Regions from separate parts of the Homo sapiens genome. Here regions 1, 3, 4, 5, 6 and 7 are each reported to be linked to region 2. The links are microRNA targets in miRTarBase. Many come from high-throughput screens and were not tested one by one. Region 2 holds a microRNA gene; each other region holds the end of a gene's coding sequence.

Region 1 (4,648 bases), not on the chromosome of region 2:
CTGGACATACAGACTATCCTCTGAATAAACTTTACAAGCAGGATGGTTAAGTACAACCATTTTCTCCTCTACAAGAAGGAAAATGAAAAGGACAGGTTTGTGTGTTTTTTGGAAAGGAAGGCCCTTTTTATATAGTAGGCTCTTTGTTAAGAAGGGAATTTCTGAGCTTTACCTCAAGTTAATTATTTCTGGGGAGGAAAAGTACCTCAGACAAGGATGAAAATAGCACTATTATATGATTTAGCAAAATTATGAAATAATGCAAAAGCCCTGGATAGAAAACTAGCCAGTATTTACAGTCAAAGTGACTATAATCTGAACCAAACATGTAAGTCATGGGAAAAAATAATTTTAATAAAACCCCACAGTGATGAGAATAACATTGTTTTCTCCATTTCTGCACAAGCTCACTTTTTTCTGTATTTTTAAATGTACACATGTTATATATACATAATGTATACATAACATATATGATAACCCGGTTACTGCAGTCAGCATGGAGACAGCAGTACACTATTCACCATCTTCAAACTTTAGAAGACTACTTTTCTTTCCAGCAAAAACCTGAAAAGATTGTAAATATTACAAGGCACTGCAAGAGTCTGCAGGCAAACAAGAATGATGAATTATATGTGGAATAGAGGTGGTGGCCAAAGGCAGAACATAGGATGTAGAGCAGTCATTAATACATGTAATTGTACATGTCAGCCATGGAGCTTTTTTCATCCTGGGGTACACTGTTTAAAATGATTGTGACTAGAGAAGAAGGGGTCCTAAAATCTGCAGTATTTTCACTTTATAGGTTGTATGGCTCGGTGTAATTACACAAAGCCAACTTTTTATAATGAAACACAGGCAGTTTTAAAGAATTAGGGATTTTAGGAGCATTGTTTTTATACATATGGAAAACAGTGCAATGCAAGCATTTGCATTACACTAATGTCCTAAAATCACTTTAAACTGCAAACCAATACTGTACAAGAAATTTGAAGAATCTGTACTTAACATTTGGAAAGACTCATACAAAACAGATCATGTTCTATGAAAAGAAACAGTGGATCTTATCAACAGCAATTCTCAAAATGCTGCCCTAGATGCCTCAAATTATAGCGACAGAATCTTCTTGATAATGGATGTGATCCTCAGGTAAGCAACATAAAACACATTTTTTTTTTTTTTTGGAAAAGAGGTACTTAATGTCACAAAGTAGACTGTGCAAAAAAAAAAAAAAGTACACCCATTAAGTTTTCGTCATTACCTGGCAAGCCCATGGGGTATAATTTTTAGAAGAATACGGAGGAAAATCTGTTAACAGTAATGTTGGGTAGCAATTTGGAATGTTTACTAGTAGACAGAACTCCTAATTAGGTAAATGTGTATTAGAAATGACCTTAAAGTCTTCAGAGTGGAAGGTAAGTAATTTGAACATGAATACTTAGTTGGTAAATAACATTTTAAGAATTCTATTTAGGTTTCACAGACTGAGCATTAGGTAACCCTGTGACTAGCCTTTAACATTATTATAGTTAACCTTCTTAAAAACCAAAGGTGTACATTTTGACATTGCCTCCCCTCCTCCTAAAACTGGATAAAACCCAGTAAAGTGCAACTTGACAGTGATCTCTCTCAGATTCTAAAGAGGCTGCCAAACTCATTTAAGATCTAAAATCATCTAAGATACTATAGATACTAAAAAGAAATTCTAACAACTAAAAATTGTAATTAAAAAGAGCTAAGGACAACTTAAATAGTATCCTTCTAGGGTCTACTATCTCACTGCAGGACAGTGTATACCCCACATCTCTGAGAACCCTGTAAAGCCAGTGTTTCATATGTAAGTCTCGAAACCTACTGTGTCAAGTAAATTTCACTTCAGAAGAATGGATTGAGGTGTAGCTTTAATCCCCCTTGTTAGGAATACAAGGATTCCCCCCAAACGAGATTCATATCAGCTGCAATATATGCCTTGCAAAAGAATGCAAGACAAACCAATGCCTCTCAGATGCTCAAAACCAATGTAGTATGCATGTGAGAAACAAGGAGACAGCTGCTTTGAATTATTACTGAAATCGTAAAACAGCAGCAGTATCTGCAGAATCAAGGAACTGTTACAATTCTGTTTTTTCCCTTTCCCTCTGTCTCACCCAAAACAAGGCTTCATCCTACTGCTGTGATGACGGGAAATCACATTTAAAAAGGGCTCATGTTCTGTATTGGTTGACAAAATTATTGTAATTTTTTGGGGGGGCTAAGGAGGGCGGATCACAAGGTTAGGAGTTTGAGACCAGTCTGGCCAACATAGTGAAACCCCATCCTCTACTAAAAATACAAAAATTAGCCAGGCATGGTGGCTGGCGCCTGTAGTCCCAGCTACTCAGGAGGCTGAGGCAGGAGAATCGCTTGAACCCAGGAGGGGGAGGTTGCAGCAGTGAGCCAAGATCACACCACTGCACTCCAACCTGGGTGACAGAGAGAGACTCCATCTCAAAAAAAAAAAAAAAAGTGATTCTAATTTTATACACCAAAACGTTTCCTGCAGCAAGTTACCCTGCCTTCTGTGAAAGGTAAACCTAAGACAAACATGTGAAGTGAAGATCCCATAAGACTCTGGCTGATGGAGGGTCTCAGTTCATCCACATTTGGGGAGAATCAATCTAAATAATTTTTAAACATTTTTAAAGAAGAGTATCCAGCTGCAGATAGCAGCAGTTAAAAAAAAAAAAAAAAAAGGCGGGGGATGGGGAGCTTCTCAACAATTCATGGAAAGTGTCCTGGAAATGGTAATGCTCAAGCTGAGCTTATTAAAGCATTCTGAACAGTATTTTTAAAAAATCAAGTATCAAAGAGGATAGAATTTGAAGTGAAAAAACATTTCTGTGTGCAGTGTTCTATCTGCAAACTGCACATTTCTACAGAATGATGAGCTGTATCAAATACCACACTGGAACAAAAAATATATAGTCTAAAGTAAACTCAAATGAGGGAAAATATGACAGAACCCAAGAGGAAGAAACTTTAATATCTTGGGTGTCCTGAAAATAATTCTGAAAAAACCTCCCTTTTTATCACCATCTACTCTGATTCATTTAGGACCAGGAGGGATTGTGGCAGGATTCTGCACTGATGAAGTTGGAAATGCCTGCATATTCATCCCTGGCTGGAATGGTCCCCCAGATTGGGCGGGAATTACTACAGATTGTTGTGTTGTTCCTGAAATTCCTACCCACTGTACTGGATACCCCGCCCCCGCCACAGCATTATACTGACAAACGTGAGGCATTCCATATGATGATAATGGCCCAGGAAATGAAGGGAGTGAGAGTCCTTGTGGCAAGGAAGTTGGGACAGCTCCACGGATTTGGGACAGAGAAGAAATCCATGTTGATGTGTAGCCCATAGTAGACGGAGTATTCTAAGAAAAACAAAAATAAAAACAAAAGATCAGTTTATTTGGTATAGACTTTTATCAGTCTATATTCCTTCCTATTCTTTTTTTTTCTATTGCTGCTGCACAAATGAATATTCCTTCCTAGTCTTTTTGGCATACTATTCCTATTGTTACTATTAGGGACTACCATTTTTGGAGCACCTTTCTGTGTGCTAACCATAATTATGTACCTTAATTAATGCCATCTTCATAACTGCCCTGCCTTACATTTTTATAGTTATTTCCATGCATACATACATAGAAAGATATTTGACATGATGTTTATCTAAAGTTAATGAAAATTATTTCTGGGTGGTGGGATTTGAAGGTGATATTTTAAATTTTGTACTTTTCTGCACTGATTAAATTATATAATGAACATTATTAGTTTATAGATAACCTGATTTTTAAAAAAAGACAAATTGGAGAGGTTATACATTTTCTCCTGGATATTTCAAAGGCATCTCAGAAACAAATGCCTAGAAATCAAATGTGTGATCTTCCCCTACCAAAGCACACTGTCTGCTCACATTCCGCATCTCGGTGATTGGTACACTAGAATAGCATCCAGTTATGGGAGCCAGAAACCTAGCCTTAATACCTCCCCTTCACCATACATCCATTCCATCACCAAATCTTGTCCATTTAATCTCTTAAGCATTTTTTGGAATCTGTTCACTTCTGTTCAACTCAACTTCTCCCATTTTCCAGACCAGTTAAGAGTTACCATGACTAACTCTTAACTGGTCTGCCAACATCTACCCTTACCTCCAATAAATAATCCTTTTCTCTTGCTTGAGTCAGAGTCATTTTTTCAAAAAACAAGTCTGATCATGTCAACCCTAGGGCTTAAATGGCTATTTATCTTTCTTCAAATACAGACGGCTGGGCGCGGTGGCTCACGCCTGTAATCCCAGCACTTTGGGAGGCCAAGGCGGGTGGATCAGCTGAGGTCAGGAGTTCAAGACCAGCCTGGCCAACATGGTGAAACCCTGTCTCTACTAAAAACTCAAAAATTAGCCAGGTATGGTCGCGAGCGCCTGTAATCTCGGCTACTCAGGAGGCTGAGGCAGCAGAATTGTTGAACCTGGGAGGCATAGGCTGCAGTGAGCAGAGATCGCGCCATTGCACTCCAGCCTGGGCAACAAGAGTGAAACTCCGTCTCAAAAAAAATAAAAACAAACAAACTAACAAAAAATACAGATGAAGTTCCTTATCATT
Region 2 (4,648 bases):
TTAGACGCATACCTCAACCAAAAAACAGCCCATATCCAGTAAGTAATAAGGCAATGATTTACATTTCACATATTACCAGAGTAATGACTAATAGCATACATGTATAAACTGAAAAGTGACTGATGCTTATTTTCAGATGGGTCCAAATTTATTGGATAATTATGGAGAATAATGTATGTTTTCTGAGAGTTGGTAGTAAGAAAATATTGCCATTGCTGGCCAGGCACAATGGCTCACACCTATAATCCCAGCATTTTGGGAGACTTGAGGTCAGGAGTTCATGACCAGCCACCTCAGCCTCCCAAGTAACTAGAACTACTGGTGCATGCCACCAAGTCCAGCTAATTTTTTTTTTTTTTTGAGACGGAATATTGCTCTGTCACCCAGATTGGCTGTGTTCTCCATTCTAAGTCCAGTGGTTAGAAATTGTCAAGTTCTCACATCTGCAAAAAAAGTAAAAAAGATGAACCTGCTACATCTAAATATACTTTGTTGTCTTCCTACAAGTCCTATTTTACATACTTATGGCATTTTTACTGCAGTTTGAAAATACAGTCAATTCTTGTTATTCACAGTATTGATGTTCTATAAACTTGCCCTAAATACTGCATTAGTGAGTCCTGAATTTATTAGTTAATACTGAATTTCCTAGGGGAAATACAGGGTTAGGTTCCTGTGAGTCTTTGGTTACCTTTTTATCAACCAATCAACAAAAATCCTTATTTTACCTGTGTTTTTGTTTGAAGACACCTTTTAAAATATATATTATTGATTCATTAGCATTGAACTAAGCTTATCTAATGCACTTATTTTTTGTGTAAGGTGTATCACAGCCTTCTTGAGCCTAGGAATGCCAAATAGTACTTCCACACCATACTTAAGGGCCATTTCATTTTATTTCTTATTTTTAAAATTTATTCTCTTTTCTTATTTAAAGAAAAAATTTGTAGATGCCGGGTCTCGCCCTCTTGACCAGGCTGGAGTGCAGTGACACAATCACAACTCACTGGAGCCTCAAACTCCTGGGCTCAAGTGATCTTCCCACCTCAGCCTCCCAAATATCTGGGACTACAGGCACACGCCACCATGCCCAGCTAATTTTTTAATTTTATTTTTTTGTAGAGGCAGGGTCTGGCTATGTTTTTGAGGTCTTAATTCCCCAATGAACATGACTAGTATATTCCAGGCTGGTCTTGAACTCCTGTCACAAAGCAATTCTCTTGCCTTAGCCTCCCAAAGTGCTGGGATTTCAGGCATGAGCCACTGCACCTGGCTTGGACCATTTTAAATAGTGAAGTCACTCACACACACATACACGCATGCAGGTGCACACACAGACACAAAAAGACACAAAAATGCGAAACTTGTGGCACTAAAAAGACTGTGGAAAGGGTGCTTCCTTACAGTATGAAAACTGAAACAAAAAAGCAGAGTGTTGTTTAGTTAGACGCCACCTGGGAACGTGCTTGTTGGGAAACTCCAGTTGTCCACTGTCCTGCCATGTCTATGATGACTGCAAACATTTGGGAGTATTAATTTGAGGGTCACAAACAGATTTTAGGTGATGGGCATATTTACAAATACAGAATCTGCTAGTAATGAGGACTGACTGTATAATGCTTTAGTAGTCTCAAGTATGTTTTTTTTCTCATTAAGCCTTTGCTTAAGATGCAGGCAAGATTGATGCTGTTGGTTTGGTGCAAAAGTAATTGCAGTGCTTCCCATTTAAAAGTAATGGCACACACTGCAATTACTTTTGCTCCAACTTAATACTTGGCTTTATTGACTTTTAGCATCAGTGCAGTTTGGTTAATGATAAAATTTTCCAAAGCAGTGTCTCATCTGCAGGAGCAAACTATAGCAAGGGCCCTGGCCATCAGTTCTCCCTTCTGGTCCTGATATTCCTTTTTAAACTGTCTTTCCATACCCCTCCCTCCAGTGGGCTTGGCGATGTTGCATTAAATAGCAAAGAGAAGGAAACTCCTCCCCAGTCCTCACTGACCATTTCTTTTTCCACTCAGTCCTGCTCAGAATGTAGAAGAGAAGTTGAATTTAATTCATAAATTCAGCAGCTTGAGGACTGTCAGTTTTGTCGTTATTTAGTGAAATAGTAATTGAATTGGGCTACAAGGTCATTGGAATCTGCTGTTTCATTTCATATCATTTTACGTGTTATTATTCTAATAAGAATACAAATGGAGTTTGATGCCATTTGCTGATCATCCATCTTATTGATGCCATTGAACAGAACGCAGAAACACAAAGGGATTTATAAGGCATTTCAGTTTTGATGTCCTTTGAAAAATGAAAGTCTTTTCAGAAATGCAAAAGACAAAATGACTTAGAATTCCATCTCGTTCTGCCCGGTTTGAGGGCATCCCTTCCTATTCCTTAGATAGCTGTTAATAAGAGTCCTGAGGAAAACTGGGTTTGAATTTAAAAACAAAAAATTTTTAAGAGACAGGGTCTCGCTTTGTCACCCAGGCTGGAGTGCAGTGGCACAATCATAGCCCCTGTAACCTTGAAGTCCTGGACTCAAGTGATGCTCCCACCTCAGCCTCCCTAGTAGCTGGAACTACTGGCACATGCCATCAAGTCCAGCTTTTTTTTTTTTTTTTTCTGAGATGGAATCTCACTTTGTCACCGAGGCCGTAGTGCAGTGGCGCGATCTCGGCTCACAGCAACCTCTGTCTCTCAAGTTCAAGTGATTGTCCTGCCTCAGCCTCCTGAGTAGCTGGGACTACAAGCATGTGCTACTACGCCCAGCTAATTTTTGTATTTTTAGTAGAGACAGGGTTTCACCATATTGGCCAGGCTGGTCTGGAACTCCTGACCTTGTGATCCGTCCGCCTCAGCCTCTCAAAGTGCTGGGATTACAGGCATGAGCCACCACACCCAGCCAAGTCCAGCTAATTAAAAAAAAAATAAAAATCGTAGAGATGGGGTCTCCCCGTGTTGCCCAAGCTGGTGTCAAATTCCTGACCTCAAGCAATCCTCCCACCTCGGCCTCCCAAAGCTCTATGATTATAGATGTGAGCTGCCATGCCTGGCCTTAAATTTTTCAAAAGCTTTTAAACCAATCTTAAAATGTTTTATCCTCTTAGAATCATGTCCCTAGTTTTATAGCTTGGAAATTCTTGCTCTTTTCAAATTGCTCTTTAACTCTGGCCTGATTGGAAGGTGGCAGCTTTTCAAATACAGGTCATGGCAGCGCTCAACCTGGATTCCTCAGTTGCAGAAGACTGCTTTTGCTAGACTGCTGAATTTACTTCCAACTTTTCAGATGTTTCTGAGGTTGACCCTGGTGTGGTTCCCACTCAAAGTGGAGCAAGCAGGTGGGTGGCAGGTCTCTTCTTAGCGGCTTCCTAGAGGGAAGCCTCGTGAGTGGGATGGGGGACAGGTTGCCCTGGGGGAGCCCAGGAATGGGGAGACAAGGCCACCTGCTATGCAGATGATATAGTTTGGCTGTGTACCCACCCACTTCTCATCTTGAATTGTAGTTCCCATAATCCCCACATGTTGTGGGAGGAACCTGGTGGGAGGTAATTGAATCATGGGGGCGGTTTTCCCCATGCTATTTTCATAATAGTGAGTGAGTTCTCATGAAAGCTGATGGTTTTATAAGGGGCTTTCCCTTTCACTGGGCACTCATTCTTCTCCTTGCTGCTGCCATGTGAAGAAGGACGTGTTTGCTTCCCCTTCAACCATGATTGTAAGTTTCCTGAGGCCTCCCCAGCCCTGCAGAACTGTGAGTCAATTAAACCTCTTTCCTTTATAAATTACCCAATCTCAGGTTTGTCCTAATCGCAGCATGAGAATGGCCTAATACAGTAGGTTTTCCTGAGTCCTCTCTCTGACTCACCCTCTGACGGGCAAAAGACAGTGGCAGCACTGCCAGCAATCAGCTGGGAACTTCTCCCCTGTGATAGAAAGCAGTGCTTGCTGGCTTCCCTTTGTGATGCTTTTGGACAGCAGCTCTATGGACCTATGCCTTTTGTCCTTTGAGGACGGACGCACAGTCTGTGCAGCTCGAGGACGCCGTCATGGGTGAGATGCTGTGGAGTGTGATGACGCCACCTCTTAGGCTGTGTGTGAAAGTAGCGAGGAGAGGCAGGGTCTGCATGAGCCACTTTGGAGCAGGCCAAAACACTGTGGAGAAGCACATTACAGCCACAGTGGCGGTGTAAAGGGTCAGACTGACCACTGGCTTCTGGAAAGTCTTCATTTCTGAAAGACTGTCAGGTAGAAGATGGATGAGAGTTACTCTGTGAGGCCGGAAACCTAGAACTCAGACCATTGTGTGCAGACCAGGGAGAGGCAGTGTTTGGAGTGAGATAAGCAGGAATTTTGAAATTACACAGACCCGGTTTTGAATTTACTCATGAGCTGTGTGGCTTAGAGAAAGCTGTTTAATCCCACTGACCTTCATCTGTGAAGTGTCCAAAAATAATACAGAGCTTGCAGAGTTGTGTGGATAAGGGATAATCTATCGAAAGCATGTGGCAAGTGGCAGACACAATGTGGGCACTAGGCAAGTGGCAAGTCCCTTGTATTGAGTCTTATTTGTCTATTCAGTGAATATTTGGATACCAACTCTGCTGTTCTGGGCATGATGTTAGCCACTGGGGAGACAGAAGGAATGAAAGAG
Region 3 (4,648 bases), not on the chromosome of region 2:
AAAGTCCACACACACACACACACTCCCCCCTTTCACACACAGATATGCACACACAGGCAGTACACACTCCCTACGACATGTAAAAAAGGCATAGCCAGCCGGGCACAGTGGCTCATGCCGGTAATCCCAGCACTTTGGGAGGCTGAGATGGGAGGATCACTTGAGGTCAGGAGTTCGAGACCAGACTGGCCAACATGGTGAAACCTTGTTTCTACTAAAAATACAAAAATTAGCAGGGTGTGGTGGCGCATGCCTGTAGTCCCGGCTACTTGGGAGGCTGAGGTAGGAGAATCACTTGAGCCCTGGAGATCTAGGCTGTAGTGAGCTGAGATGGCGCCACTGCATTCCAGCCTGGGCAACAGAGCAAGACTCCATCTCAAAAAAAAAAAAAAAAAAAAAAGGCACAGCCAGAGAGCCAATGCGCGCGCGCGTGCACACACACACACACACACACACACACACACACACACGACCCACACTGCTCTCCCAGAGGCTTGTGGATGGTGGTGACAAAGAGCCTGAGTACTGGGACAGGCTAAATGGCATGTGAATCACAGAGCAGCTGCCTGGATGACCTCGGGCAATCACTTTCCCTCCCTAGACCTGTTTTCCCATCAAAATAATGGGGACAGTAAGCCTCTTGTGGTCATGAAATGACACCCCCAGATGGGGTGATGTTCTACATGTTTAATCGCTGGTAAAGACCAGGCATCAATAGAGAAAGGATGACAAGTAGGGGTCCTGGTGGGCCCTGTGGGCAGGGTGAACCCTTTAGCCCCAGACTGTGGGGAGGGGAAAGGGGACAGGGAGAGGGGCACTTCTGAGCCAAGGCAATGGCCCTTTACTGACTGGCACAGGGCACCATAGGGCACGGTTAATTCTGTGCGCCCCGCCCGCTCTCAGCCGTCTTAAGGCTGAGCCTGCCAACCCGGGACTCTAAAAGGCTGTGTCCAGGGCCTCAACCTCCTCACATTTCAGAGGGGACCCTGTTATCCCCGGGAGGAGGGAGAGGTCCCCAACCATCAGGATTCCAAGGAGGAGAGGAGGCAGAGAAGCGAGGAGCGCGGCACGGAGCTGTCTTCTCCCCAGGGAGGGCAGGAGTTGAGGCTGGAACGTGGAGACCTGCGGAGGCAGACACCAGAAGACCCGCGCACAGACGCACGCAGCCCCTGGGGCCTCGTAAACCGGATTCCAGGCGCTTTTGGCCTGGCTACCGCAAGTCCTGCTCCCCCTGGGCCGGCGCGGGGAAGCTATGCTGAGGAGGATCCGGGCCTGGCCCAGGGCCCTGCCTCCTCGGGAAAACAGCACCATATTAGCACTTAGCCTGTGAGGCTGGGGTGGGCGGGCGGCAGGAAGGGCCTCGGGTGCCAGAGGAATGAGCCCCCTTTTTGCTGGATCCCAGAGGGCCATCACCCTAAACCTAGGTGCCTGTCCACCACTCTGCGCATGTGTGCCGGCTCCTGCCAGGGCTAGCAGACCTTACCTGGGATCTTGGAGGTGGCGGGATAACCAGGGAAGACATGTCATGGCAGAGTGGGCCTGAGGGGGTGCACAGGCCAGACCCAGCAGCCCAGTCTGGCAGCCAGGGCTTCCGGGCCAGCTCAATGTCTCCCCCCGCTGTTCACATCCGTCAGTGCCCTGGGTGGGCCCCAGAGCCGCTCAAACCATGCCTGGCACTTCCATCCTCAGCATGGCTCCGGGAAGAAGGTGCTTTCATCCCCTGCACTGTAGCAACGAGGACTCTGAAGCACAGGTCACCTGCCACCCGGGCTCATGAGGCCAGGTGGAGGGTCTGGCACTGCCCCAGGTTGCTGGGTGTTGTGGTCCTTGTCACCGGTGCGACCAGCTAAGGGGACATCAGCCCTCAGGTGCTCCCCATCGGCCACACACATCCCGCCCCAACACCAGCCTTCTGAGAGTCCTCACCACCCTTGAATAAAGGCCCCTTTCATGTTTCCCTCCCGTGTCCCTCTTCCACTCACTACCTCCAGAACGGCCTGTAAGCTGTTCCCTCAGCCTGGACTCTGGGCTCACAAGAAGTCAGACTGTAAGCTGTGGAGCCTCGTTTCCTGGGTTCAAATCCCCCCTGTGCCACTTTCTGGCTGTAGGGTCTTGGGCCAGTGACCTCCTTCACCTCTAGCCTCTGTTTCCTCATCTTTGAACTTGGGGTTAGCTTGGCACCTGCCCCACAAAGTGGCTGTCAGGACACTGGGGCGACGCAGGAAGGCCAGAGGTCAGCGTCTGGCTAGAGGTGGCCCTACGGTGTCACTGTCTCAGCCTGCCCCTCCCAGAAGCCTCCTCTGACCACCTGTTCTGTCTCACCTCCCCCATTTCCTATTGTGACTGCTGTAAACACCTGGCCAGATGTCTGCCTGCTCCACCACCCTGAATGCTTACTGACTGAATAAAACGCTGGGTGGTTTGAAGGGCTGGTCACATGGGCCACCAGGCCACCTCCCGAACGTCAGAGCCTCAGGTCCCCTCTCCTTCTTCTGGTGACCAGGCAGACGCAGAACCCAAGACATCACGGACAGCAAGGGATGTGCGCTGGCTGCTTTATTTAAGGGCTTGTGATTGACAGCTGTCCCCATCCCAGCCCTTGCTTCCTCTACAAAAGCAACTGAACATGAAACGGGCTTCCTGGTTACCATGGGGAGGGGGGCGGCTCCCTGTCAGGGCCCAGCCCAGGGACCTGGGGAACGGCGGCTTTGAATCCCCGGCCACGGGCACTAGAAGGTGGAGAAGGAGAGCGGGAAGTCCAGTTGAGATGGGCACGGTGCTGGTGAGGAGGCTGGAGAGGTCCTGTTCCAGCCTCTAGTGGGCTTCCCTTGTCCAGGATGTCAGGAAACAGTCCCCCAATTCCGCCGGGGGGAGCCAGAGCCCCAAGGCTGGGGGGCCAGGGGCTGCAGGGAACACAGCAAAGGCTTTCGGAGCCAAGTGAGATCAGTTCAGGCCCCTCAGGCCCAGGAACCCGACACCACCGCGTACCTGTGAGCACACACTCACGGCCACCCCAGTGACACGTGCAGCCACACACACCCACACTCACTCACACCCACACCCACACGCACACCCACTACACACACACACACACACACACACACACACACACACACACACACACACACGGCTGTGACAGCCCAGGACCCACACCCTGGACCCCTGGAATGTCTCTGGACCAGAACCGAACAGCTGGATCCACAGTACGCGGGGCTGCTCAGGGGGCGGGTCCTCTGTGTCGCTACTGATTGGCCGCCTCGCAGGCGTCTATCCAATCACTGTACACATCCACGGGTTCTGACAGATCTGGGCCACTTAGGTCAAGGGCGATCATTGGCATTGGAACCCTGCCCTGCATCTTCTCACCCCACAGAAATCACTAGGTGGCACCTGTTCCTCTGGACGGCTTTGGCCCTGCACCAGGGCACACAGTGGGCCAGATGAGCAGGGTCCGGACTCCAGCCCCCTCCCCACCCTCTGGAAAAAGCCCAGGTTTCCAAGGATACACGTTATGGGCGTCTGGAATTCCTCTAGGCACACGGTACAAGAGATGACTCCGGTGTTGCGGGCACGGTCCCTGAAACAGACCAAGAGAAGGGACTGGTGAGCAATGCGTCCTGGGCCTGTGGGTGATGACGCCTTCACCAAGGGAGGCAAGGGGCAGGATGGAGAACAGCGGGGAAGAGGCAGTGGGGAGGCTGGATCCCTTGCCCTGTTCCCCACTCACATTTTCACATCACAGGATTTCTCGTGGTTGCAGAAGGGGCAGGTGAACTGGGTCTCGAGGGTGCCTGTCATCTTCTTCTTGGGAGGCGGCTTTCGTTTTGACTTTCTGCGCCCCATGTCTGCAGGTGGATGAGCCTGTGGGGAGTGGCAGATGTCAGTGGTTTGAGGAAACCACGCAGCGCCCCAGCTCAATGCTCTAGAAAGCAGGCCGGAAAGAGGGTCTGGGACTTGCACCGTGGTCCCGGGGCCTCTGCCCTTGAGGGACGAGGCCCTCAGTCCTGATGCAGGAGGACAATTCCCTGTCCCACTCTGGATGGAAGGGGTGAGACGAGGCTCTAACCCCATCTCTCTCACTTACTGCGTGACCTGGGCAGGTTATTTAAGCTCTTTGTGCCACAGTTTCCTCGTCTATAAAACAGAGACAAGGCCAGGCATGGTGGCTCACACCTGTGATCCCAGCCAGCACTTTGGGAAGCTAAGGTGAGAGGATTACTTGATGCCAGGACCTGGATACCAGCCTGGGCAACATAGTGAGGCCTCATCTCTAAAAAAAAAAAATTAAAAATTAGCCAGGCATGGTGGTGCAGGCCTGTAGTCCCAGCTACTTGGGAGGCTGAGATGGGAGGATCGCTTGAGCCCAGGAGTTTCAGGTTTCAGTGATGATCCAGAGTTATGATCCAGGCACTGCACTCCAGCCTAGGCAACAGGATGAAACCCTGCATAAAAAAAAAAAAAGAAAAAAAAAAGGCCAGGTGTGGTGGCTCACACTTGTAATCCCAGGACTTTGGGAGGCTGAGGCGGGCGGATCACGAGGTCAGGAGTTCGAGACCAGCCTGACCAACACGGTGAAACCCCATCTCTACTAAAAATACAAAAATTAGCTGGCCATAGTGGCAGGCACCCGTAACCCCAGCTACTCAGG
Region 4 (3,833 bases), not on the chromosome of region 2:
TTTGAAGCTTACATATATGTATTATTTAAAACTCAACAGTAACCTCAGAAATTGTTTAGAACCTAGTTCAATAAAATATTTTGGGGGATGAATACTTTATCACTGATATTATTTAGAATTGCTGGCTCATGGTGGTAATAAAAAATAGACCAACTTGTAGTCAGCTTTATTATTGTTTTCAAATTCTTTCCAGTGTACCCTCTATTCCCTGCCCTTTGCGGGATAGACTTGTTGTCTCATCACCTGTCCTTGATATTCTACTGCTACTCCTCATCAACAATTGTGGGTTACTGGGACTCTAGAATAATATCACAAAGCCAGAGGCCAGTCTGACTTGCAGAATCTTTGAAAACCTCATTATTATTCAAAGAGTATTATTGATTGCCTACCGCAACCGGGGGCCATTCTAGGTGCTAGCAATTTCAGGTGAAACAGTCTCTGATCTCCAGGACTTAAGTTCTGATAATGTATATTGACATTGTGAGTGCAAGCAATAGCATTTTCTCCAACAGTTAAAAGTAGTAGCCTTTTCTAAAAGTTACAGGTTGTCCTCTCTTCCTTCCCCTTTGTTTATCTTTCTCAGTGTCCTCCCAGGTGCACCCCTTTCTCCCAGCACCATAACCAATCACATTTCTTTAAGTTTCAAGTAAGGTCTCAAGTGCAGGGGCATATTATCATCTTAGAAGGGAGAACCAACAAATAGAATCTTTTGCCCAACTTAGATCTATTTGTCCTTCTTATGGACCTGTGACATTCACCTGTCAATCTGCTCTTACAAGCCTCTATCAGATGCAAGGTGCTTCTGAGATTTTTGATACAGGGATGCAGCTTAGAATTGTAAGTGGCCTCCTTGATATTCTGCATCACTAGATAAGGCTTACACAGCAAATACCTATGCTCATCAAAAAAAAAAGTCTAAGATAAAAGTGCAGGCAAGCAGTTCAGAGGGGATAAAAGGCCCATTGTGAAAACAATGGGAAGGCTAGTATAGGCCAAGTTAGGTCTCCCACCAACCTCTCTGCTTTATGAGGGCTACCACGCAGCTCATCCCAGTCCCACTGGAGTCTTTTCTTCTTCTAAGCCTATGTAACAATTTCTCACTTAGAACTGTAAAGGTATTTAGAATACATGTCAGGGCCAGAATTTGCAGAGGTCAAGAAGCTTCTTTATGATTAAGTGAATGACCCCAGCAAGGTCAGTATTAGCTTCACCAAGACTTCTTATCAGACTAGTGGGCCAACCACACTTCCCATTCCTCCCAAAGAAAAGTCAGATAGGAGCTTGGAAGTAGTGCTGGACCTCAATACTAGTGTTCAGAATCTCATGACAATTTTTATATCTTATATGTTCATGATTGCAAAGAGAAGATAATGATTTTTTTTCTGATAATAATGCAGCATATTCCTTTCAGATCAATGTTAGCACATCCCTTGTCAATAAAATTTATATTCCACCTCAACCAATTCCTTTCATAGGCATCAGCTGATTTGAATGGGGTGACGTATTTTACAATGATGAGGAAGAAGCATTTTTTTGTTTTGACTTTACATGAGCACTGGTGACTGATTTTTAACACACACACACACACACACACACACACACACAAAATCTCTGGTGATGAAAATAACCATTAAATATAACTAATGCAATACTATGCCTTTGTATGATGAACTGACTCACTGCTTAGTATAGTTTTATGTGCTTTGCTTAAAACATTTGAGGCCACAGAAAGGTTGGACATGAAATAAAGTCTTCGGGGTTATTTCATATTCTTTTAAGAGTGTTTCTTCAGCTGCCAGGGAAAGATGTGTGCATGAATTCTCTTACCCATGTCAAGGCCAGTTACAGCTCCATAAAATCAATTCAGCTGTGGTAGACTGATAAGTGCATGTTTCAAGATGACACAAAGTGATCAAGCCAGGTGAGAACTAGAAGAGCTTTGGGGCTAAATTAAATGCCATTGCCTGATGGGGAAGAGGAGAGGAAGGAAATGCACAGGCCAATTGTTGCTGGGATGATATGATTTTGTAAGCCCTCTATGATCAGTGTTAATCCTGTGTTGTTTTGTATATTTTCAAAATGTATACATGATAGTTTGCTAGAAATGGTCACCCAGTGACAGAGGACCTGGCCCTTTCTGGTCACTTGTCCCCTTTCACTGTTTTGGGGACTTCTCTAGGAGGTTCTAATCCAAAGTAAACTTTTACTTTGAAAGCTTTAAAAGTCCTTTTACTCTACGGATGTTATGTGGAAAGGCTTGCTTACTCTCGGCTCCATTGCTCTTAAACCTCTTGGTCTTGCTGGCAAAATTTATATGAATCAGAGATTATTTTTAGGTCTGGGGTTTATATTAGAAATTATTCACTGTCATTCAACAAATATGCACAAAGCACCCACTAGATACCAGGGATACATGGGCAAACTTCCTGTTTCTGAAAATGCTGCCAAGTCTCAGTTCCTGAGCACTTGGCGCCTTTTACTTTGGGCCCTAGGTAGAACCACAGATACAGGTAGTACTGATGGACATCTTCTTGTCATGGCTGAAGTTTTCCGGGGAATGGTTCTTTGAGGAGCTACCTTGGCTGAGGCTCTCTTGGTTGAATCTCTAAGTACAAGAGCATAAGACAAGGCTTCCCGTTGAGTAATATAGCCTAGGGGAAAGAAATGAGAGAAACTTCAAAATCAACAATTTTACAAGGCAAATAAGAAAACAAAACTGCAAATATTTACTTATGTGTACAAAATTTATTCTACTCTTGTGGTAAGCATGCCCAGATTATATGATCTTTGAAGATTGGAAATATATTTTTCTTCTTTTGTATTTCTCATTCAATAAGTTAATAAACACTTGGTCGTTGATTAACATGTCAGATTATTTGGAAAGGGACTTGAGCCATGATATCTTCGATATCAAAACTTTCTTCAAACCAGAAAGATATATTTGATCTCTCTCAGTGTTTCTCAACGTGTAGTCTGCAGACCACCAACTGGTGAATCATTGGGCTGAGGCCACATGCTTTTTCAAAATCCTTATTAAAAATGCAGATTTATGACTCTAAAGACCTTCTGAATCAGAAACTCAGAGGGTTAATCTTGGAAATCTGCATTTTAATAAGGTACCTGGTGGATTTTATGTGCACTAAGCATTGAATACTTCTGTTTCTGGATTCATTGGCTTCTATGCAATTTTTGCTCTAAAAACAAAGCTACTAGATGATGCTTCTAGTGACACTTCAGACAATCATGGAGACCAGACTGAATCTCGGCTTCTCTGTTTACTATTAAATACTTGCATGACCCTGGTCAAGCTATTTAACTTGTTCATGTTTTAGTTTTCTCTTCTGTAAACTGTAGGTCATAAAGACACCTGCCACATACAGGTGTTTGAGTGTTAAATACAATACCTGCAAAGTTCTTAGAAGAGCACCTGACACACAGGAAGTCCTCAATAAAAGGTAACTATTGTTATTGTTTTTATTAAATCAATTGCAAAAACCATGCCTTCCTTTTGTGTAAATATAAAAACAACAGCATAAAGTAGATGTGCTAAAGCCAAGTGAGTAGATTTTTGTTTAAAAAGCACTCTAGTGGAGTTAGGAGAACGGTATGATGAAGGGCAGCCAGCAACTGAAAGCATTTCCTGCAAGAAAAGGGACTTTACAACAATTAGCCTTTCGGTAAGTTGATGCTTATAATTTGTGAAGGTCTTTCACAACCATTATTTCATTTGTGCTTTGTAAAATCTAAAGAGGTTGAAAGAAGAGGAGAGACAGCAGAGGATGGGGCTGAAAATGTATAATCTTTGGAGGTGACAGCTCTGGCTTGAAGTCCTA
Region 5 (4,648 bases), not on the chromosome of region 2:
CTAGGGTAGTGTTTCAGTCAGACATCCTCAGTACCATCTTAGTTCCTCCTCCCATAAAAATAATGCCTCCCTTGTTTTCTGAAACTCAGGCAGCAGGCCAGTCAGAAACCATACAGAAATGATATCTGGAGATTCAGAAAGAGCAGTAGATTTTAGATTGAAGCTACAGACGTTTTAATACACATAAATTTATATAGTTACTCATTAATTTATAAATGTGTCCTAATGTATAATGCATGCAAAATTCACTTGAGAGTCTTGTGTACAGAAAACAAATATGGTTTATATACTGTACAACCAAAATGAAACCATAGCTGAAAGAAACACAACAAAAAAGAAATAAAGAATAAAACTCTAAATCAGTATTTTACCTTGCCAAATGGACTGATTTCACTCCTGATAGTATCTCTGTGTTACACTTACAATAAACGCTTTCATCTTCTAGTCAGATTTAAGCAGCCCATATTAATGCCTTAACTTTGCTTTATGACATAACAATATTTAAGACTGGTCCATTATCTGAGTTTGTCAGAAGGCAAATTTTTAATATATTATTTATTATGTTCAGAAAATAAACATGGACAAATATACAGGATCAAAAAAGTTGGGAATAGCCCATTTCCCCTCATTGTCCAAACCCAACAACCGTTTTTTTACCGTAACAACAGGTATAAAAGGCACAGTTGCTTATTTTGCATTCACTCATTTATTTTTTTTGTTTCTTTTTATTGATTTTTTTTCAAAAGCACTCTATATATGGAGTGGCACCAGATTTAACCTATTTAAAATAAAAGTCATACAAACACAAAATATATTTCTGTGTCATGCCAGCTCATTATATAATAAACATGTTATGACAGCTAATTCTACTAGAATTACTGTGAATACTTACAGTACACTGAATTTTATTCTTTCACATCCATTTTAGTTTTAAAGAGAGGTTCACGAGTTAAATGACAATGGCATGGCTATCTTGAATGGGGTGCAAACATCATTGGGGAATGTGGATCCAATTAATCCGAAGGTCCGGTGTGACCCGTATTAGTTTTATAGACAAGAGAAGGGTTTAAGATAGGGTGAAATGAGCTATCAGTGGTTTCAATGTCTCATGAAAGAAAGAAATGCATTAAAAAAAAAAAAGTTTGTCAAACATCCGTGTTATGCAATTGAGTATTTTCTTTGTAACGTGCAAGAAAAAATGTGTATACATTTCATAAGTATCTTTAGAAGTATTTTGTCTTAATAGGTACTTACAGATTATACAAGGCAGAACTGCTTTAATGCAGTTTCCTAACAAAGTACTAGAATTGCATCTTTCCATAGTGTAAATAATAATCAAACATAAACATGTTCAATTACTGATATTTTAGTCCAATGTTTTTTGTTTCAATTACATATCTTTTTGCATCCTACCTATTATACATAAACTAACATCAAAATGAAAACTCCATTTAAGAAAGAGCATAAGGAAATGACCCCCAAATTGTACCCCACCAAACAGAGAAGCGGTTTTCAAAGATAAGTATTTTGAAGACCTATAGTGAATTATCAACCTATATTCCAGGCTGTGTCACTTTATAGTCTAAGAAATTCTGCAAAGCATGAAACTACCCAAAGCTACATTGTTTCTACAGTTTGCTAGAGAGCCATCAAGGCTATGCCTTAACCAGCTTGCAAACATTCAGTGATAAGTTTGTTCTCTTCACACCTGTTATTCCCTATTCTGTCCATGGATTGTCACTTTCGTCTGAATGTCCCAGCTCAATTTTCAGCCGTGTTAGGTTATCCTCTATAGAGTGAGTAGCTCAAAATCTGCATATTCTGTTTCTTTTTATTGCACTGGAAAAACTCTGCTTTCACCTTTGAGATATACATTCTGTGAAAAATGTCACTGCCCAAAACTCCTTTCTTTCATGTTCAGTCTAGATTTGTTTAAATAATGTTCAAATCACATTAGTGATAAAGTCAACTAGGGTGTCACCTTGTTTCAATGTTGTGAGTCTCAAAATATTTCTATATTGCACACGATTCAAAATTAATGCACTTGTGGTGCATCAAAGTGTGCACTGAACAAGTAAAAAATGCAATTGTAATTTAAAATGTGGATAAAAAGAGCAGCAAGCATAGCCTGGATTCTAAAATGATAATCGTGGACTTAACTATCAAGACTATATGCCAATGCATCTTTCTTAACCTACCCATGATCCATAAATACTATTTTAAAACATGGAATCTTCCCTGATAATATTACCTGAAACTAAACTTGAACCTCAACCAATTGCCTATTATAATACCAAAAATATATCTCACTAGTTTTCATTTTCTGCGCTTTCAAATAAAATCCATTTTAAAAGAAGGAACATTTTCCTGGGCACTATAAAATGAACTAGTGTTTGATTGTTTCTGTGCATACATGGGTTCAGTTGCTTTTGTTGTTTAATGGTTTTCCACGTCAAGACCAAATCAACTTCATGACTTCCCTGATCTGCCATATGATCTTTGGCCTTTGGATGATACAATTGTTCAAGTTAGTTAATAATAGTGGTCTTGTTCTGAAAAAATATATATAATTTTTAGAAGTCATAACTGGTGAAATTGATACATGTAATCAAGACTGTGTGTATACTGAGAATATTTGGTGAATGTATGGAATTGAAGTTGATGCTCTTGACCTGAAAATAACAACATATGACAATTTAGGACTGCAATCACCCACTGAGTATTGTTTTTCTCTTAGTCTTTGTTGGAATATTAAAGCTTTGATATTCCCAAAATACTTTTTAATACAGTCCCTCTTTCTAAGGACTGTACCTTTAGAGGGACTCTATCACTTTCAAAGGATTGCCTTTGATGGTGATAAACCATTTTCTGATGGTATGTCTGAAATACATTTTATCTGTCCTGCTTATTTTTGACCAGCCAGATGACACTCGAACAAAATCAAAGTGACTAAAATCATGCTTCAGCTTAGGGATAATGAGGGTGTGTTGTGTTCTGCTAATCAGGCTTCGTACAGTTACTGTGAAAGAAACTTGCAACTATCCCCCTTTTTTTTTCTTTTCTTTTTGTTTTTTTTTTTTTGGAGAGGGGTGGGGAAGAGAAAGTGAGTGTTGGGAATCAGTGAAGGGGTTAGACATGCAAGTAACAAGGATGGTTTCTACATTGTACAGTAGAATCAGGCTAACAGTATCACTAAAGGCCTGATCTGGAGGCAGAAGTGGCAGGCAAAGCTTTGTCTCTTTGGTAGCCCCCTCTTTGTGATTAAACGTTTTGCTTTGTAAGGTTTTTGCCCCTTATTCTCCTTTTCATACATGTAAAGAACTTTGCTGTTGCTCCTTTATAGCCTACAGGTAAACTTCTCTTCTAGTGAGAGTATTGACAGGAGATGGCTTATATTCCCCTGTTTTTGTAAGGGGAATATCCTCAGGGTTGGCTTCCTCATTTTTGCTGAAACTAGCTGCACTGAAGGTCTCATAGGATGAGGTCAACTTTTTGTTCAGGAGGTTTCTGTTGCGGTCACCCATGATGGCGGCCTCCCCATTGGCCAGCTTTTCCTGGCTTCCTCGTTCATCAACAGGCATGAAAGTGGACAGTTTAGGCTGGCTCTTCTTCCTCTCCGGAGAAGTGCGGACCGGCATCCAGCAGGAGTCTGAGTGGCCATACTCATCACACTCACGAGTGCACTTCCCAGTCAGGGCTACATCTGGAAGAGGCCTTGAATCTGAAATCCAAGGAGAATAAGCCATTAGTATTTGACACTCCTCAACAGGCTCCCCTGATCTATATGAAATTAGAGGAAATATATAAATATATTCCTTACCATCTTATTTCTCATTTCCCAACACCCTCTAGCTCATCATTCCATAGGACAGTTTTTAATCCCATGTGCATCAAAGATAAGGTTTTGCAAGGACATCCAATATTATAGAACAGGAAAGTAGACAAAATGATACATTTAAGTGTGTAGATGAAACAGATATATGTGTGTTTGTTACAGGACAGGGACATGAGGATGGTCTCAGTTAGAAGCTCTAAATACATAGGTAAATTTGTATGGGTGCTAATATTTTCCACATCCATAAGAAAAATTATTAAATCCAAATAGACAATTTTCTGGATTTATAAATTATCCCAGAAGTGGTGTGCTTTTGCCAATTGGATTTCTTCCTGCTTATACATTATTCATAGAATGCAAATATGCAAAACCTTATATTTAAAATACATTCTAAGACATGGGGTGACTCATAAGTAGAACCTAAATTGACAGCACATTATGTGGTAAAAACTAAAAAGCAAGGAACCAGTAGTTACAGGTATAAGCATACTAGCAATATCACGCACCTGCCCACCCTAGCCCACATCCCCTCACCCCCCTCCTACCATGCCAAATGACCTAATATGTGCTGATGTGTTCACATCAAAATACACAGGCCATCTTATCTGAAATGTAATGTACTGGGTGAATACGGGTAAGTTACTAAACTTTGGATGAACTAGCCTGTACTCTAATTAATGGTGCTGTCCAATGGAATGGGAAATGACTTTTACTTCTAAAAGGCTAAATCATGTACAAAGAATTCTTAGGAAACAAGATTAAAGATGACAGTTAATAATTACCTGTATGTATAATTGAAAGCATGTGTCTGTC
Region 6 (4,648 bases), not on the chromosome of region 2:
GAGGATGAGAGCAAGTGCATTTCGTCATGTCTTCCCCACACAGCATGCCCTTCAGAACTGAACCTCATTGGCGGCAGAGGCAGGTGGAACCTGAAGCCCTTTATTGCCGCCACCGCAATGCTTGGACCTGAACCCAAAAGGCTTCCGAGCTCTGCCCAGAGTGCGTGGACATTCCTAACAGTTTAACATTCAGCCTTTCACGTGTCTGACATTTCGCTTCTCCCTTCCTCTGGCTTTGTGGGACTCAACAGTATTTGCCTGACAAATTGCCACAGCAGGGTTTGAAGAGGGAAGCAATGTGAAACTGCCCTTGACTGAAGACTTGTCCTATCTACAGCATGATGTGTGACTTTGGGAGCAGGCCAGTGGCTCCGTCTCAGGGCTGGGACATGTTGGTGCTAGCATATCAGAGCTAGTAGAATTAGTTTCTTGTTGGTATAATTTTATGACATGTGAAACATTTCTTAGTCCTCCAAAAAATGTTAAAATAGAAAAAGTGCATGCCATAGCTGTTTGGCAGATTAGAATACAAGGCTATTCCTAGTTTCAAAACATTGGATATGTCTGTCTAAATTAGGATTGTGGGTATAGAAGCATGTAACTTTCTCGTCAGATTCACTGTGATTGATGTGAACAGAGGGTGTGGTGGCTGTTTGAATAGAGCTCCTGTTGTAAAGGAGCAGGGAAGATTTTTTTTTTTAAGCTTCAGTTTCATGTAATTTCTTGGAGTTTTGTTTAACTGTTTTTTTTTAATCAAATATTTTTTTCTTTATTCTACTAGGGTATACTGACAAACCAAAACTGCCTGGAATGCAAGCATTTGTCTCCTAGTACTTAATTTAAGTACACATTTTTTATTGACTTTTCCTTTTAAAATATACTGATAGGTTCTCATTTTCATTGTAGGTGGAAAGCCAGATGACATCACCGTCCTTCTTTCAATAGTGGCTGAGTATACAGACTAGCTGAGGTGTCAAGTCCTGCCTTTCCTTTCATCATCCCAAATTTCCCCTGCCATGTGTGCTGATCCTGCTGGCAGGACCACATTTCTTTGCCACTGATCTCAATGGCCAGTGATGTAAGTCTTTTGCCTGTCTTCTTGAGACTCGTTGAGATCTTTGTTGAGAACCACTACTATCATTCACTAGCTCATATCTGCCGGCAGCAATTGAAGAGATCCAATATTTGAAGATTGGCCTTCATTTCTCGATGTTCTTTCCATGATGGGGATGGAGGTGTTCAGTGCCACCGTGGCTGTTACTTTTCAAAGTAGTTGAAGTATTGAAAATGAGTAATGTTGGTAAAGTGAATTCAAAATCCTAGTATGCTAAAGGGATGGTACAAGTCTAACACAAATTGTACGTAATGATACATCTACTAGAAACATACATTATTCATCAAAAGAAATGTTACATGTGTACTCCACAGGCATAGTCTTTGTTATGATGATTGGTGTGGCTTTATGTCTTTGTTATAAACTCCTATTTTTCAGGGGCTTATGATTCTGCTCTAAAACATTGCTCTGGGTTATACAGTTTTGATCCCAAAAGCTTTTTTGTTACAAATCGGGAGAAAAATCCATTTTAGTTCTATGGATGGAAATATTTCATGCTTTTAAAAAGATGTTTGTGTTCCTGTGGTTAAAGTTTTGGCAGTTTATTGATTAGTCCAAATCACAGGCTAAGGCCTGATCTCCAGGAGGGGTAGGGGAGACACTTTACCAGTATTTTTTTATGGAAATAATACTCAAGGTTGTAAAACCCCTCAAAGCCTAGAAATTTAATTGTTATGGCTGAAATTCCTCCTAGTTGTCTGATAGAATGCCCCTGAATGGGAACTCTAGGTCCCAAGGCCTGAAGGGTTGAGAACAGACAGCTGTAACTTTGAATTTTGTTGGCTTTCAGTGGTCATGCTACCTACCCATACTCGTACTCTCAGACCTTTTATTAGTAGCCTTGCTTTCTATAGAGCATGCACCAAATCCAGTGAGTCCATGTGGAGAGAGCACTGTGTGCGCAGCGGCAGCAGCACAGACGTCCATGAGGAAAACTCCCAGTGATGATCTGACATTTACAATTACCCCACATGGAAATTTAGGGGTTTCTGAATCAAGCTTAATGTTTACAGTTTCCAAATAGCCATTTTGCAGTGTATAGTTTCCTTACAAAACTACCCCGCATTCAGTTTTCACATTATCTGCAAGCTGAAACTTATTTTTAAGTTTTGTGTACAAGTTGACTGCTGTAAAGATATATATTTTTGGGTCAGTTTTTTTCCTTCATTAACTTGGTGGTAGAAAAAAATATATACTTAGAAATCCTTAAATTAAAGCCATGTTTTATATATAAGTCAGGTAACATTGGTGTATAGATGAGAATGCAATTAAACCTGATGAGAATCTACTTGAGAATATAGAAAGTCTTTCTCTAAAGGAGATACTGACTCCCTGGTTTATTGCATTAAAATTTATGTTTGAGGTTACCTCAACTTGTTTTAAAAGATTTTGTTTTGTGAATTTGTACTGTATATTTGAGTAACTGTCAGGCTTTTATTTAAAATTGTTTAACATGTACCATGTACATGTCATTACTATATTTCAATGCATCATGCTTGTAACAGGCATTTCATTTATAATAAGAATGAGTTATTCATTTGTAAGCCGTTCAGTAATTTATCTACTATTCCTAAATTGGCATAATGTTAGATAATCTATTTTGAATCACCTTTAATTACATGTCAGAATGCCTTAACTACCCTAACTTGACAAAACAGAATTCTTTGGTAGACGCGGTGGGGGCGGGGTGGGGGGTCTGGACGGAGTCTCTATTTAAGGAGAAATCATCATGCTATGATAAAACACAGAAGCATGAGTGGCAAGTGGCGGGGTATTTATTTTGCACAAACTATTTGCAGTCTCTGTGTATTTAAAAAGTAAAGAAAGTTGCATCCAGAAGGGTTTTGTTAGAATGAATACATTTATATTAGGACTGACAACTTCAGCTCTTTTGTTTAGGTTTTCAATTATTTTTGGTAAGAGTATGTAGCCTTATGATCTGGATATATTTTGCATTCATTTTCCAACGCCTACATTTAATTCCTGGTAAGAGCAGTGCTCGTCAAGTTTCTGGTTTTTCTCTGCTCTCATTTAACCCGTCAAACACAATCTTTGTAAAGCTAGATTGGTGGTGTTTTATACAACTTATTTACTCAGCTTACCTTTTTGAGAAACGATTGTTAGAAATTGACGATGTGTTTGTTCCAGTGATACTGAAAGTAGTGGGGGCAAGAATTGAGTTTCACAGTGGAATTGGCTTTGGATCTGGCCTATAGATTAGTGACATAAAATATTTTCTCTATTTTCCCCTGTTCTTTTTGTGTTATGCACTTAATTTTATGACTGCCGGGGGGGTCAGCTGGAGTGCTGCTTAACAAGTATCTCTCCTACTCTCAGTGGTCAGAGGCTGTGTTGGACCCATAGTAGAATTTTCCAGGTCACAGACCCAAGCTTCCATGGGTTGTTACTGTGCTGTACCACTTGGTGGGTCTGATTCTGAACCTGATGTGTGTGTTAATTATATTTTAAGCAACACACACACACACACACGCCTCATGTAATGGACTTTTATAACAAAAGAAAAAATTTGGATTTCTAATTTACAAATGGCAAATTATTTATCCCTCTCTGGATGCACCAAAGACCAGTAAAGTTTATAGCTTTTCCATCTATATTTATAAAGCAATACTGTATTATAAAAATCAATATTTTTATCACATGCTTGAAATTTTTATTTTGTTGTTTTAAAATGTGCACTCTAAACATATCAGAACCTTATTTCTTCCTATGAACTTAAGCTGCCTGCGCACAAAAAAAAAAAAAATTTACCAAATGGAGATGCAGTAGAGTCCATAGGCTCTAAAAACTAAAAGAAATGGGATGCAGGGGGAACAAGTTATTTGTCCTGAGTTACTGTACTTGCTTGACATGGTTGTTGGGTACTAAATCACAAAAGAATCCATTCCAGGTATGCATGTCTGGGGGTTGGGCTGTGTCTAGATTAGAAACTGGGTTTCAAGCTTTGCATGATGGGAGAGCGTCCTCTCCTCTATCAGCTGCGTGTGTTCTGGATAGGACAGTAGCCCGGAGATGGAAACCACCTTCAGTACCATTAGCCCACCATACCAAGTAACAAGTTAGGCAGGAATCGTGGGAATTTATTGAGTCAGCTTTGAGTGTTTGAGAGAATGTAAACAAGATTGGCTCGAATTGTAAACGTTTGTACTTTGGATGAGTTCATGGTTCTTTAGGTCACCTTAATACCAGCTATCTTTGGTAGAAGCTACAGCATTCAGTTTCTCTGGAAACTGTATCACATTTTTGCATTTTAAAAATTTTACAGTATCAAAAAACCAAAATCTGCTTATGAAACAAAACATGAAGCAGGACATATTTGGATTCTATTTATTTAAAATTAAATTCTTTGCAAAATTGAACTTCTCAACTAAAACGTGTCCATGTCAGAATTTTAACTGTTAGCAGGTAGTTTGTGGCAAAGATGGCTAAATAATGAAGCAAATTAGAATCTGTGTGTATACTAATGAGCTGCTTTTTTTCTGTTGAGACTATCATTATTTGTCTTATTACCCAAGA
Region 7 (4,648 bases), not on the chromosome of region 2:
TCATGCCTGTAATCCCAACACTTTGGGAACCCAAGGTGGGAGGATCGCCTGAGGCCAGGAGTTTGAGACTAGCCTGGGCAACAAAGTGAGACTCCAGCTCTACAAAAATACAAAAATATTATCTGGGTGTGGTGGCATGCACCTAGAATCTCAACTACTTGGAAGGCTGAGAGGATCACTTGAGCTCAGAAGTTTGAGATTACAATTAGCTATCATTGTGCCACTTCACTCCAGCCTGGGTGACAGAATGAGACCCTGTCTCTTAAAAAAACTGCATGAAGCAATAATTATAAAATTGTTATAGTGTAAAGATATAATCTGACTAACAGGAATAGCACAAAGGAGGAGGAAAAGAATATAGCCACATTGGAGCAAAATTTTGTAAACTATTAAAATTAAGTTGATCTTCATCCTAATTATATAGTTTTTAAGTTAAGATATTAATTGTAATCCTCAGGGTAATTACTTGGAAAAGAACTTTACAAAAGGAAAAGAGACAATATGAGAATTAAAATGGTAATTTTAGAAATATTTACTTGATACAAAATAAAACAATAATAAAGAAATAAAAGAACAAAAAAGACATAAGACATGTGGAAAACAAACAGAAAACAGTAGGTGTAAATCCTCTCTTAGTGGTAATTATATTAAACACACATGTACGAAACACTTCAATCAGAAGGCAGATACTGAACAATGGATTATTAAAAAATGGTCAAAATATGAGCTGCCTAAAAGAGACACAATTTAGATTCAAAAGCTTAAGTGGTTGAAAGCTAAAGGATGTAAAAAGCCCATACCAAGCATAAAGACAGCCATAAGACAACTAATACCATACAAAATAGATTTTAAACAAGATCTCTCACTAAAGATAAAGACGGACATTTTATAACGATAAAAGGGCTCATCTGTCTGGAAATATAATAAACGTACAAGCACATGACAACAGAGCCCCCAAAATACATGAAACAAAACCTGGCAGAATTGACAGGAGAAATAGACAACCTAATAATAACAGAGACTTCAATAGGCCCCTTAAATAATGAAGTCTAAAAAGTAAAAAAAATAAATAAATTTCAAAAAATGTTTATAAAATAAGAATATAAAGAAAGAAAATATTTTTGTACAGCTGTACAATGTGTTTGTGTTTCAAGCTAAGTGTTATTACATAAGAGTCAAAAAGTTTAAAAATTAAAAAGTTTTTAAAGCAAAAAAAGTTACAGTAAGCTAAGGTTAGTTTATTACTGAAGGTAAAATTTTTAAAATAATTTTAGTGTAGCCTAAGTGTATAGCGTTTATAAAGTGTCCCAGGCCTTCACATTCACATTCACTCACCGCTTCCTCACTGAATCACCCAGAGCAACTTCCAGTCCTTTAAAAAGCTCCATTCATGGTAAGTACCCTATACAATAAAGTGTATCATTTTCTATCTTTTATACTGTAATTTAATTGTACCTTTTCTATGTTTAGATCTGTTTAGATACAGAGATACTTACCACTGTGTTAAAACTGCCTACAGTATTCAGTGCTGTAACATGCTATACAGGTTTGTAGCCTAGGGGTGTAATAGGTTATACCACCTAGGTTTTTGTAAGTACGTGCTATGGTGTTGACACAATGACGAAATTGCCTAAAAACACATTTTTCAGAATGTATTCCTATTGTAAAGCAATGCATGACTATGTATACACACACACACACACACACACACACACACACAAACAGTTCAGCTCACTTATAGATAAAGCTATTTTTCAAATTACAAAAGAAAGCATCATATATTCTACTCAAATTTTTACCTTCTCTACTGAGAGATCATGTGAAGAGGAAAGCTAAAACACCAAGATTGAGATGAACTGAGATATACTCTGACAAGTCAGGTTGGGGAACATGGGCAAGCCATTTACTGTACTTATCTGATTTTTAATTTCACTTGTAAAATAATATTTAAAATTCCCCTGAATGTTGTTAATTCTAATTTTTCTGTAATTTTATTTAAGTGTAACTATTTAGAAACATATTTAGTATATGAGGCAAATTACCTATTGTTTCATTCTTTTAATGTTATAATACTAAATATATATATTTATATTTAGGAAATGAATTTATGGATTGAGCTGTTTTAATTTTTTAGTAATATTTTATAATTGGTCACTTACGACTTGTAAGTCTATTTTCCATTGTATACATTGTACACTCAAAAACATTAAAATAATTCTGTGAAAATAAAGTGTAAGCTTCTGTTTTCATTCCTCCCTGTTACTAAGCTTGTTTCTCTGCCTCTCTGCATGCACCAACCCCCACACTCTTAGTTTTAAAGTCTCAGCGTACTAATAAAAGTGGGATATCTTCTAGGGACTTTGATTCCACGAGGCAGTGATTTTTATTATGTCTTAATTATTTTTCATGGGAGTGCTTCATTTAGATTACTTTCTAATACCCCCCAGTTATAACAAGATGATAGATTTTTTAAAATTTGTCACTTATTTCTTATACTATTATTTCTTATGGTAAACTGTTTACCATGCCTTTGCCCATGTAAACACTTGTAAGATTATAATCACTCCAAAATGAGCAAGTATTGTTATTGCACACATTCTTATCAAGAGAAAAAGAAAATGGCTTGGTGTTCAAGTTTTTCCATGGGTTGAAAAATGCACAAGAACTTAGCAACTTTGGAGGAAAACCAGCTTACTTTTTCTTTGATGCAACCAGAAGATTGCAAATCAATACTTAGCATTAACATTTTAATTGAGAATTAACATCACCATAATTGAAGATGAGGATGAGCATCTTGATGTTCAGGAGAGGGCTATTTGCTTGGGGAGGTCATTACGCTGGAAAGCACAAACACTGGAAAGGGAAAACGCAAATTATGTGTTTTCCTTGGGCATGGACATAAAGTAAACACTTGAACTGGTGGTCAACTGTAATTTTCTTCCAGAGCCAGCAATTCTGGCAACACTACACTTTCGATTTATAGCAAAGCACACAAGTAGCAGTGACTTTGAAAAGAAAGGATAAAAGAATCAATGAAAAAGTTACTAGTTCTTAAAGATCTGTGTCTCATTCGAGGAACTTAAGGACCTCTCCCTCAATCTAAAAGCAGAATGCACTCTTGCTGCTTACTCCCAGCATGCCCTCAGCTGTTCCTAATTACTCCTGGAGGAAGGCAATGATATTTGAGTCTGGGTTATCAACAATCCTTTAATTTTTTATTTTTATTTTTTTCCCTGGGATTTCGAACCAATATACTCCTAGCCTGAACAACATAGAACATTTCCTTTCCATTTTGGTAGAAATTATTTTTTAATGTAAATTATATTGTGTTCTATTTGTTTCCAATGTCTTGAAAAGTTCAATCACTTCTCCAAATTCTCCGAATAAACATAAGAAAATATCTCTCCCCAGCACTACCCGGTCCCCCAGTATCACCATCCTAAAGGCACTTCCACTTCCTCTATCATCAGGGAAGGAGTGTGCAGTTCTGATTTAGCTCCTCAGTGGAGTAAAGGGAATTTAGAGGAAGGGGGATTTCTGCAGAAATTGTCAGTTACACAAGTAAGTTCCTCTTGGTTCCCCGTTTCATCAAAAGTGAAAAACTGTTCACAGGAGTGCCCATGTCCCCTGTTTCCCTATGCATCACTAGAGCCAAGAGGGGACTCCGCCAGCAAGGCACCCTCTGCTCTGTCCCGCAGATCACAGTCCCCGACTTTCACCCCATTGTTTGTGCAATGTGCAGAACTGGAGCCCAAAGCAGCGGGCTCAGGATCACTCTCCAGGCCCGGCGGGCCCATAGACTCCTTCCTTGGCTGGGAAGAGGGGCTTTCGTGAAAGCAGAGCTTGACAAGCCCCAGTACTGTCATGGTCAAGATCACCAACACTACTACTGCTGTGCTCACAAATATGAAGACCACGGCAGAGGAGGAGTCGAAAGCCTGAGGAGTGGCAGAGGAAGTCGTAGAATTAAACTTGGAAATCACGCTCCCTGATGGGGTGATAGTGGCCTTTGACTCGGCTTGAAGGGACATTTGAAGGGTAGACATCGTGCTCTGTGATCCCCATCGAGGAATCTCAGGAATAGATGTTACTGAATTGTCTTGTTCAGGGACAAGTGGTGTCTCTCCCAGCTTCTCGTCGACCCTGATTGGCCATGTTCTCTGCGGCACGGGGCTGGTTGCAGTGGCCGGCGGGCGCCTGGTGGGCACCCCGGTCCCCCCAAGGGTCGGCTGTCCTTCCCCACTGGTCACACAAGAGCGGCCGTCCTTCCCCAGCTCGAAGCCCGTAGCACATTCGCAGGCAAAGCCTCCCAAGTCGTCTAGGCAGTTAGGGAGCTCTGCGCATTTGCCAGCACGGAGGTACCTCCCGGGGCAGGGACACAACACATCGCCCGAGAGTTTGTCCCAGCGAGCGCCGATTTCGTCCGCGATGCAAGTAACTGAGATCGGGAGCTGTCCCCGGCAGAGCGCACTCACCTCGGTCCCAGGTGGACTGAAGTCCAGAGCGGCGCTGTGCAGCTGGAAGGGCGCGCGATAGCTCAAGTTAGAGGCGGCCCCGGGGCGCGGCGCAGGACACAAGACCTCAAACTGGTACTTGCACAGGTAGCCGTTGGCGCGCAGGTGGCATCGCATCTCCTTCCAGCCTGCGG

Evidence for each region. The annotated mature microRNA hsa-miR-603 reads CACACACUGCAAUUACUUUUGC and lies in region 2 at 1,739-1,760, shown strand. An mRNA with a match to its seed (bases 2 to 7 or 8) in the 3' UTR can be bound and repressed. Matches are read on the target gene's strand: a 7mer-m8 pairs with bases 2 to 8, a 7mer-A1 pairs with bases 2 to 7 and ends in A, and an 8mer does both.
Region 1: the mRNA of WNK3 is a reported target of hsa-miR-603. The part of its 3' UTR that is shown has no 7-base or 8-base seed match.
Region 3: the mRNA of ELOF1 is a reported target of hsa-miR-603. Seed matches in the 3' UTR shown: 7mer-A1 at 3,078-3,084 and 7mer-m8 at 2,997-3,003.
Region 4: the mRNA of FAM216B is a reported target of hsa-miR-603. The part of its 3' UTR that is shown has no 7-base or 8-base seed match.
Region 5: miRTarBase lists PCDH7 as a target of hsa-miR-603. The part of its 3' UTR that is shown has no 7-base or 8-base seed match.
Region 6: the mRNA of PPTC7 is a reported target of hsa-miR-603. Seed matches in the 3' UTR shown: 7mer-A1 at 4,584-4,590.
Region 7: miRTarBase lists CLEC14A as a target of hsa-miR-603. The part of its 3' UTR that is shown has no 7-base or 8-base seed match.

What each region holds. Positions count from the first base shown.
Region 1 is chrX:54,195,242-54,199,889 of GRCh38, forward strand. It overlaps WNK3 (WNK lysine deficient protein kinase 3), which reads right to left. Exons shown (of 24, transcript NM_020922.5): 24 at 1-3,412. The coding sequence ends at 3,083. Among named protein-coding and RNA genes, the nearest start is that of FAM120C, 14 kb to the left of the region's middle.
Region 2 is chr10:24,274,007-24,278,654 of GRCh38, forward strand. It overlaps MIR603 (microRNA 603), which reads left to right and starts at 1,679; the gene lies at 1,679-1,775. The region is part of intron 2 of KIAA1217; the gene reads left to right.
Region 3 is chr19:11,550,505-11,555,152 of GRCh38, forward strand. It overlaps ELOF1 (elongation factor 1), which reads right to left. Exons shown (of 4, transcript NM_032377.4): 2 at 3,728-3,861; 3 at 3,507-3,577; 4 at 2,542-3,306. The coding sequence starts at 3,843. The coding sequence ends at 3,242. Among named protein-coding and RNA genes, the nearest start is that of ELOF1, 6.4 kb to the right of the region's middle. RefSeq lists enhancers at 1,089-2,060, 1,430-1,724, 2,144-2,263, 3,922-4,121.
Region 4 is chr13:42,787,409-42,791,241 of GRCh38, reverse strand. It overlaps FAM216B (family with sequence similarity 216 member B), which reads right to left. Exons shown (of 4, transcript NM_001318932.2): 4 at 1-2,651. The coding sequence ends at 2,452. Among named protein-coding and RNA genes, the nearest start is that of FAM216B, 7.7 kb to the right of the region's middle.
Region 5 is chr4:31,141,546-31,146,193 of GRCh38, reverse strand. It overlaps PCDH7 (protocadherin 7), which reads right to left. Exons shown (of 3, transcript NM_001173523.2): 3 at 1-3,721. The coding sequence ends at 3,345. Among named protein-coding and RNA genes, the nearest start is that of LINC02497, 27 kb to the left of the region's middle.
Region 6 is chr12:110,533,354-110,538,001 of GRCh38, reverse strand. It overlaps PPTC7 (protein phosphatase targeting COQ7), which reads left to right. Exons shown (of 6, transcript NM_139283.2): 6 at 907-4,648. The coding sequence ends at 965. It overlaps RAD9B (RAD9 checkpoint clamp component B), which reads right to left. Exons shown (of 11, transcript NM_001286535.2): 11 at 4,446-4,648. Among named protein-coding and RNA genes, the nearest start is that of RAD9B, 33 kb to the right of the region's middle.
Region 7 is chr14:38,250,915-38,255,562 of GRCh38, forward strand. It overlaps CLEC14A (C-type lectin domain containing 14A), which reads right to left. Exons shown (of 1, transcript NM_175060.3): 1 at 3,086-4,648. The coding sequence ends at 3,636. Among named protein-coding and RNA genes, the nearest start is that of CLEC14A, 2.9 kb to the right of the region's middle. RefSeq lists an enhancer at 4,361-4,648.